Regions from separate parts of the Homo sapiens genome. Here region 1 is linked to region 2. The links come from fine-mapping of genetic effects on gene expression. A gene starts in region 2. The other region holds a variant in brackets. All regions are shown on one strand. Distances are between the middles of the regions. Region 1 overlaps ACTL8 (actin like 8). Region 2 holds the start of ACTL8 (actin like 8).

Region 1 (4,393 bases), 71 kb before region 2:
TTCATCTTCAACTCCAAATCTCTGAGAGAAGGTGGTTATTACTTCCTATTTTATACTTGATAGACTCAAAGAGGTTAAATAACTTGCCCAAGGCAGCTCAGCTCATGATAGGGCCAGCCTGAAACTCAATCTGACACCAAGTCTGGGGCTTGCACCAGGCTGGTTCTGAGTTGGTCTACCTAAGAATTGTTATTCCAGGCCCCCACTCTTTTCCCTGGGGACTGCTGATGCTTCAAGTGTGGGAGCAAACACATGAGAATATGGCTCATGTGTTCAAAGACAAGGTGAGTTGGACTCTGCCCTCCAAATTCCTCTACTTGCCCTGAGATATCTGGGTTCCTTGAGCTTCAGTCTTCCAAACTACACTTGTTACTCTATTCCAGCTCTTAACATTAAGGAGCCAAGAATCCCTTTCAGAAACAGCTGGATAACACTGTGGTTGAGAGTCCAGGCTGGGTTCAAACCCCAGTTCTGGCACTTAACAGAAAACACATTTTATTAAATAAATAGTATATTGTGGCTCCCTTCTCTGTATTAGTCAGAGTAAGCAAAACAGTTGCTGTAACAAACATCCCCACACTCTCAGTGGCTGAACATAGATTCCTCATGCCACAGGCTAGTGTTGGTGGGGTTGGGCAGGGGTTTCTGCTCCACCTAGGCACTCAGGCTCCTTCCATCTGCAGCATTTGCCATCCATCCCCTAGGGCTTACACGTCCTCCCCATTGACCCATCCCACAGGCTGTGAAGGAGTATTTTTAAGGTCAGGTGCATGCCAACTGAGCCAGAACTCAGCCACCTGGCCCTATATAACTGCTGGAGACTTGGGAGCATTGCCTCACAGTGTGCCGTGGAAGGAGAAGACACAGTTACTGATGGTCCCTAGCAACCTCATCTCAGTCCACTCCATTGAAAGTGGCCATCCCTCCACCTCCAGATCACATGACCGTGTCACATTTGATTCATTTCATTCTTCATCATCAGAAATATGTTTACTTATATACTGTCTACAATAGATCCCACAGGAGGCTGTAAGCTTGAAACCAGAAACCTTGTACATCTTTCTCAAGTCCCCAAGGTCCAGCACAGCTCCTAAAACATGCTAGGTACTTGAATATGCATCAGATATATACCAAACAAATACGAATAAGAAGGGAAACTTTAAACAGAATATTGGGACACCTGGGATGGATGGATAGAATGTGGCAGTGAAAGAACACGGGGTCCAGACCCTTGCCTATTCTGCTCAGTGGCAGCCACTGTTCATAGGCCCCAGACACCTCAGAGCCCGCCCTGGCCCCCACCTGGCTCTCTCACACTTACACTCCCTAAGTCTCCCCAAGGGGCTGCGCACCCTACCCCCATCCATCACAGGAGCCAGCATTGCTTCCAAACAAGCTATTTATTTGCAGATATAAAACAAGATCCAACCACGGGTGGCAAGGGCATCCCAGGCTCACCTGCAGCAATGCCTCCCTGGCCAGAAAGGGCCTGTAGGACCAGAAATGTCAACTGTCCCCCATCCCCTAGTCAAAAATAATTGGGACTCCTAGCAGGAGTGCTACCCCAGTTAAAACCTACTCAACCAAGAAGAATGAGACAAACCAGGGGAAATGCCAATGAAAAATCAGTGGCTCTCAGGCATGGAGATGGCAGTCAGCCACTCATACCCCAATGATAGGCCACCCTGGAAAAACTGTCCCCTGCAGGGTTTCCAAGGATGACATCTTGTCTTCCCCCTTGGGTAGGTCCCACTCTTGCAACAAGATAAAACCTTAGAACCTAAAAAATACCCTCATGCCCCTAGAATTCCAAAGCCAGCTCACCCCACCCCACCTCATTCTACCCCCACCCAGAACATTTTGCTAAAATTAATCCGCCCGTGCCCATCTAACAGGAGCCCATTCTCAGGAGTGAGCCAGTAGGGTCACATCCTCATATGCTCACCATACTCCTCTCGGGACATCCACTCAGACTGGTAGGTAGAAAGGTGAGCCACCACGGACGCTCCTAGCCAGACACTAAAGTTTCTATTGGAACCCTCCCAGACTGTGGCCTTGGTGGAGGAGACGTGATCCCCCATCAGCTCCCTGAACAGGCGCTTTGTGAACCCGGGATAGAGGGTGTTGCCCCCGCAGGCCATCACGTGGGAGACCAGCAGGGGGCGCAGGGAGATCTCGCAGGACTCCACGGATTCCACAATGGCCCGTGGGATGCTGGGCCCCGGCTGCTCGAACACCTGCGGGCTAAAGAACATCTCAGGAGCCACCCGCTGCATGGGGGTCAGCTCCACGCGGGAGCCGTCTGGGAGCTGATAGGTGTTGCTCTCATCCAAGGCACTCTGCTGCCTCTCACGAAA[G/A]TCCAGGGCCTCCCCCAGATTCTGCGGCACGTAGCACTTGTTCATCTGAGTCACGGCGACTGTCTCCAGCTGAAACAGGCAGCGTCTATCGCAATCTTCCTTAAAGAGACTCTTGAGGAGATAGGCGGAGAGATCCTGGCCGGCGAACTCCAGCGTCTTGCCGCTGGCGGGCAAGGGGCGGCCCTGGTGGAAAGGCTGCACGCGGGTCAGGCCATAGCCAGAATCAACCACCACTCCGGTCAGGAGGCCAGAGGCATACAGGGACATCTGCAGCTGGTCGGCCAGGAGGACCGATGGGACATGCAGCAACTCAAACAGGATCTGCAACGAGGGAGAATTCACTCAGTGCATTTCCCCCCAGCCTGCTCAGCAGTCAAAGCTGAAGTCAGCACAGAGCCCCATCCTCGGGGGGACTCTCGGGCTGCCCCAGGATGCTGCGCCCAGGGCCCCTGGAGCTTATGCAGTGAGGATAATGCAGCAGCTCTGGAGGATTAGAAGGGGAGCTGGGTTTGCCCTCAGGAGCTTGTCTGGTCGTGGCTGTTCAGAAGACCACTTCGGTGAAGAGGTGAGAAGAGCTCTGTGGCTGCAAGAAATGGTTCTGGGACACTGGCTGCAGGAGCAACATGGCCACGGGTCACATGTGCAGCCTGAACCGCCTCTTTAGAAGGAAGAACAGATTAGAAAAGAAACAAGTGTTGCGTATTCACCACTGTCTCCAAACAGTGGAGGAAGACTGGAAAAGACAGACCAGAAAGATAAGACAGACAAGAAAAAAGACGCCAGAACGAAGGAAAAAGGAAAGGAAGGAAGAAAAGAAAAGAAAAGAAAAAAGAAAAAAAGGGAAAAGATGCTCACTGCCTGGCAGGAAAAGCCTTATTTTTTCTTTTAAATAAAAACCTTACAAACGTCAAGACAAACCCGGAATTCTGGTATTTAGGGTTTGCCAGAGTCCCTGGGCTGGTTTTCTCCCCCTGCTCCTCACCCCCTGAATCTTTACAAAGCCCCCCTGCCCCCCATTCCTCAGCTCTGGCAGCCTCCCCAAGGTTCTAATCCCATAGAAGCAGAAAGATCCTAACAGTCAACCCTTCTGTGGTCCCAGCCACTTACTCACCTCTTCAAGCCCCCACAAGCCCATCGTCTCCCCTCAGTGGGAGGGGGCTCCCTCCATTACTACTCTCAGAAAATTGTCCCCCCACCAGCCATTTCTCAAAATAGCAGCCAAGGTCCTCTTTTTCAAATAGAAAATCAGATACAACTCCCCCATTTAAAACTCTCCATTTAAAACTCCCCAGGAACTTCCTATTCACTTAGAGCAGTGGCTGGCAAGCATTTTCTGTAAAGGGATAGACAGTAAGGGTTGCCAAATTCAGCAAATAAAACTACAGGATGCCCAGTTACATGTGAATGTCAGATCAATAATAAATAATATTGTAGTGTAAGTATGCCCCATGCAATATGAAACATACTTAAATACTAAGACATTATTTGTAATTTATCTGAAACTCAAGTCTAACTAGGCATCACGTATTTTACCTAGTAAACCTACAATAGTAAATATTTTAGCCTTTAACTTGATGTATGGTCTCAAACAGTCTCTGCTGCAACAACTTAACTCAGATGCTGTCGTATGAAAGCACACTCTGCCAAACCCTAAATATCAGAATTCCTGTTTTGTCTTCATGTTTGGAAAGTTTTTATTTAAAAAATAATAATAGGGCTTTACCTACCAGGCAATGAGCATATGTTCTTTTTTCTTTCCTCTCTCTTTCTATCTTACATAACATATAAATGAATGTGTGTGGCTATGTTCCAATAAAACTTTATTTACAAAATAGGTGGTGGGCCGGATTTGGCTCACTGGGTTGCCAATCCTTGATTTAAAGTAGAATCCAAGCACTCCCCACAGCCTACCAGGCCTACAAGGCCCAGCCTCCTCCAACCTCACCATCCTATTTGCCTCTTGCCGCTCTTGCTGCTGAAATCACCTCCGTCAGAGAAGCCCTTCCTGAGCGCTCTCTTCAAACAGGTTCCCCACC
Region 2 (4,393 bases):
CTGGCTACAGTGCAGCGGTGCAATCATAGCTTACTGCAGCCTCAAACCCCTGGGCTCAAGCAATCCGCCTGCCTCAGCCTCCCAAAGTGTTGGGATTAAAGGCCTGAGCCACCATGCCTGTGCCCGGCCTGCCTATGTATGTTTTAAATAGAGCATAGTATCTGGTTCCTTGAAGACAGGAGCCCTCAAAAGGATCCATCCCACCCCACAGTTCTCACAGTCCTCATTATGGCCACACAGTCAAGTGCAGCATCACTCTGGCTCCCAACAGACGTGCCTCAGGTGGCATTTTGTCTTAACCGCAAATGATAGACTCATATAATGTCACCACATGCCTTGGGTAACTAGCACCCCATTTCCCATTGGCAAGGAACTTGACACTACACCCAAGCCCAAAATCACCAGAAAACCACTCCCAAAATGGTACCTCTGTGGTTCCATCTCCTGATACCTATTCCTGACACCAATTCTGTATCAGTTTGGGTCCAGTCAAGGAAAGGACACCATACAGTGATTTTTACAGGGAAAGTTTCATATGAAGAATTATTAACTTATAATAGAGAACTGAATTAACAAGAAATTGACTGATAAGGAGTAAAGAGAACGATAATTAATACAGAAACAGCAGACGCAAGGAGCAACCACAACCCACAGAGCTGAGATGGAGTCTCTGAAGACCAGACCCCATCCAGAGCTGTGATAAACAACCCCCCGCTAAGAATCCCCCAAACCAGAGCTGGACAAAGCTCTCAAGGAAGAACCCCTCAAGGCCAAGGTAGAGTCCCCAAGAAAGAGCCCCTGGGGGCTTTCATAGGTTCCCCAAAGATAAGTCCCCCACTAGAGGTTTAAAAAAAAGTTCCCAAGAAGAGGCCCCCAGGGCTGAGGCCCCCTGGGAAGAGCCCCTATTCAAGGGATAAGATAGAGCCCCAAAGAAGAGCTCCCAGAGCTACCAAGGAAGGGGCCCCCTACCCAGGGCTGTGATTGATCCCCCAAGGAAGAGTCCCCTCCGAAGGCTGAAATAAAGTCCACAAAGAAAAAGCCCCTGAGGGCTGCGGTAGAGTCCCGAAGAGACACCCTCCTGCCACCTGTGACAGAGTAAACGTCCTCAAAAAAAGAGCCCTCCCAGGGCTGACGTGGAGCCCCCAAGGAACAGCCCCCCACCCCAGGACTGAAATAGAGCCCCAAAAAGAGACCCCCATATCAGGCTGAGATAGAGACCTCCAGAAAGAGCCCCTCACCCCAGGGAAGGGACCCTCCACCAGGCTGAGATAACCCCCTCCAGGCGGTGCCCCCACAAGGGGCTAAGCTTGGGCCCCCAAGGAAGGGCCCCCAGTCCCACACATGTGGCTGAGGTACAGCCGCTATGGAAGAGTCTCCTCCAAAAGCTGAAATCAAGTCCCTAAGGAAAAGCCCTTGGTCTGAGGTAGAGCCTGTCACTCCCCAACCCCACAAAGAAGTGCCCCACACACAAACCCTTGGGGGCTGACAGCCAGGCCTTGCTTAAGAGGGCATGGCTGTGCCACAGGAAGGACAAAAAAAAAAAAAAAAACAGTCAGGGGCCACAACCAGCCAAAGTTAGAAATTCAACTTTTAGAACGTACCAGAAATCTGCCCTGTAAGATGCCACAAAAGCTGCTCTCAGAAACAGTGTCTCACAAGAGGCACCCACTGCAAAACAACTTGAAAGGGGTGCTGTGTGAGCTGCCGAACTCAGCTGCACACTGCAAACGCCTGCACGAGAGCGGCTGCACGTGGTGCCGCAGCCTACTCTGTGAGCACGTGGCAAGCAGGAAGCGGAACCTCCCCGCTGCTGGGGCTCCCCAGCGCCCTCTACTGGCAAAGCCCAGCATGCCTGCTGGCCAGGGAGAAAATTTAAAGGGCCCAGATCCATTTTTACCAAGCAGGCAAGAAGGGTGAATGTGGAGCGGAGAGGCAATAATTTGACAACCAGCAACAATGAAATATCAGCAGTGAAAAAGAAAATAACTACTGATACATAAAACAAATGCATTAATCATATACGTATTATGCTGAGTAAAAGAAACCAGACGCAAAGCAGCACAATCTGTAAGTTTCCATTTACATTATGCACAAAATTCTCTGAAAAGAAATTTAGAGGAAAGAGACTTTAGTACAGAAAACAGTTTGCAAACTTGGAGATGCACCCTCCACTGGAAAATGAAGGGGAGTTCCCAAGAATGAGGGAAGCATCAAGTTTTGCGCAAAAGTTCCTGCCCAGGTTCCCAATCAGATCAAGATGTGCAAATGAAGGATTGAAACTTGCTTAGTTCTGATTGGTCAATATAGCTGAGCTCTCATTGGTTGATACAGCCAAACCCTGATTGGTTTATACACTTGAGCCCTGATTGGTTGGTTCAGGTGAGCTGAGAAAGTACCAAAGATAAAAAGGTGCAGGTTTTCTGGGGAAGTCAGGGTAGTTGTGTAACCATAGTCAGCAAGTGGCTGCTTCATTCTATTTTAAATTTAGGCCCACTTACCCATTCTTATTTGGGGGGGGGGTAGTATTTATTTATTTTGTAGAGAACAGGGTCTTGGTATGTTGCCCAGTCTGGTCGTAAACTCAGGGGCTCAAGTGATCCGCCCACCCTGGCCTACCAAAGTGATGGGATTACAAGCAAGAACAGCGGAGCCTAGCCCACTTAGCCACTCAGGATCCATCTTGAAGGTCTGGCCCTTTCAGGTTCACATTTGTTCACAGAAGTTCAAGAACAGGCAAAGCAACCTACAGTGACAGAAATTAAAAAAAAAAAAACAGGTGGAGATGGGTGTATTTAGCTGGAAGAGGGCACAATGGAATTTTCTAGGGCAATGGAAATACTCTCTATTGCAATTGGGGTGCTGTATACATTTGTAAAAATTCATCATACTGAACACTAAGATCTGTGTGTTGCATTGTAGATAAATTATACCTCAATTTTTAAAAATTAGCCCCCAAACTTGGTTTCAAATCCAGTCACTGTGTACTACCTGTACACAGTGGGTGATATGGTTTGGCTTTGTGTCCTCACCCAAATCTCACCTTGTATTTTAATAATCCCCACGTGTCAAGGGTGGGGCCAGGTGGAGATCATTGAATCATGGGGGCTGTTTGCCCCATACTGTTCTCATGATAGTGAATAAGTCTTACGAGATCTGATGGTTTTATAAACGGGAGTTCCCCTGCACAAGCTTTTTGCCTGCCGCCACGTAAGACGTGACTTTGCCCCTCCTTTGCCTTCCACCTTGATTGTGAGGCCTCCCCAGCCAAGTGGAACTGTGAATCCATTAAACCTCTTTCCTTTATAAATTACCCAGATTTGAGTATGTCTTTATTAGCAGCATGAGAACAGACTAATACAGTGGGTAAACAAATATTGTTGAATAAATAAGTGCACACATGAATCACACATTCTTTTTGCTCCCTCACAGCAAATTTCTGATGGTTCCCCCAAATTACTAAGCTATTGGCCTGCTTTTCTGGGCTCCCATAGTCCTCTCCTCTTAGTCCGGTTGCAGCTTTTATTACACTAATGTTAGCTTCAGAGAGGCAAAAATCTCTGCTTCTACCAGAGAACCCAGCATGTCTTGAGTGCTCTGTGCCTGACACTCTTTTCAAACTCTCATAGGACAATAATCTATGCGGTAGTTACTCCTATCATCCCCATTTTACAGATGAAGAAACTGAAGTATAGTTTGTCCTAGGGCCCACACTCTTTATCACTTTGTCTTGGAAGTCAGACCATCCTAGGTGCAAATCTCAGCTCTTCCACTTACTAACCATGAGTCTTGGGCAGGACAACTGACTGATGCAGGGCAGGCAGGCCCCAAAACAGAGCTTAGCCCATGAGGGTTCTTGGCTTCCTCCAGGCAAAAATTCAAGGGCGAGAAGAAAGTGTAGAAGAAAGCAGAGCTTTATTGAAGGGCCAGTGATAAAGCTCCAGTCTTTGACTGCTCCTGCAGAGCAGGGCTACCCCATAGGCAGAACAGCAGCTCAGGGCAGCCTCACAGTCGTATTTATACCCATGTTTAATTACATGGAGATTAAGCAGTGGTTTATACAGCAATTGCTAGGGAAAGGGTGGTAACTTTTGGGTTGTCAGGTCATTGCCATGGAAAGGGGTGGTAACTCCTGCATGTTGCCATGGCAATGGTAAACTGACATGGCCTACTGGTGGATGTGTCTTATAGAAAGCTGCTTTGCCCCCTCTATTTTAGCTAGTCCGCCATTTGGTCCGGTGTCCAAGCCCCACATCAGGAGTCAAGTCCTGCCTCCCACCTCATGATCACTCTGAATCTTGCCCTACTCATCTTTGAAATGGGGATAATAATATTTTCCTCTTGGGTTGTCTTGAGGTACAAATGAGCCTGTCCACATAGAAATTTTAGCCACAAT

The links. PIP is the estimated chance that this variant, and not a neighbour inherited with it, causes the effect.
Region 1: its variant is the best candidate, but not a certain one, in a credible set for the expression of ACTL8 in prefrontal cortex (GTEx, PIP 0.74).

Annotation. Positions count from the first base shown.
Region 1 is chr1:17,824,052-17,828,444 of GRCh38, reverse strand. It overlaps ACTL8 (actin like 8), which reads right to left. Exons shown (of 3, transcript NM_030812.3): 3 at 1,382-2,678. The coding sequence ends at 1,926. Among named protein-coding and RNA genes, the nearest start is that of ACTL8, 71 kb to the right of the region's middle. RefSeq lists an enhancer at 1,828-2,417. The variant G/A (reference allele first, on the strand shown) is at 2,358.
Region 2 is chr1:17,752,713-17,757,105 of GRCh38, reverse strand. It overlaps ACTL8 (actin like 8), which reads right to left and starts at 1,773. Exons shown (of 3, transcript NM_030812.3): 1 at 1,602-1,773.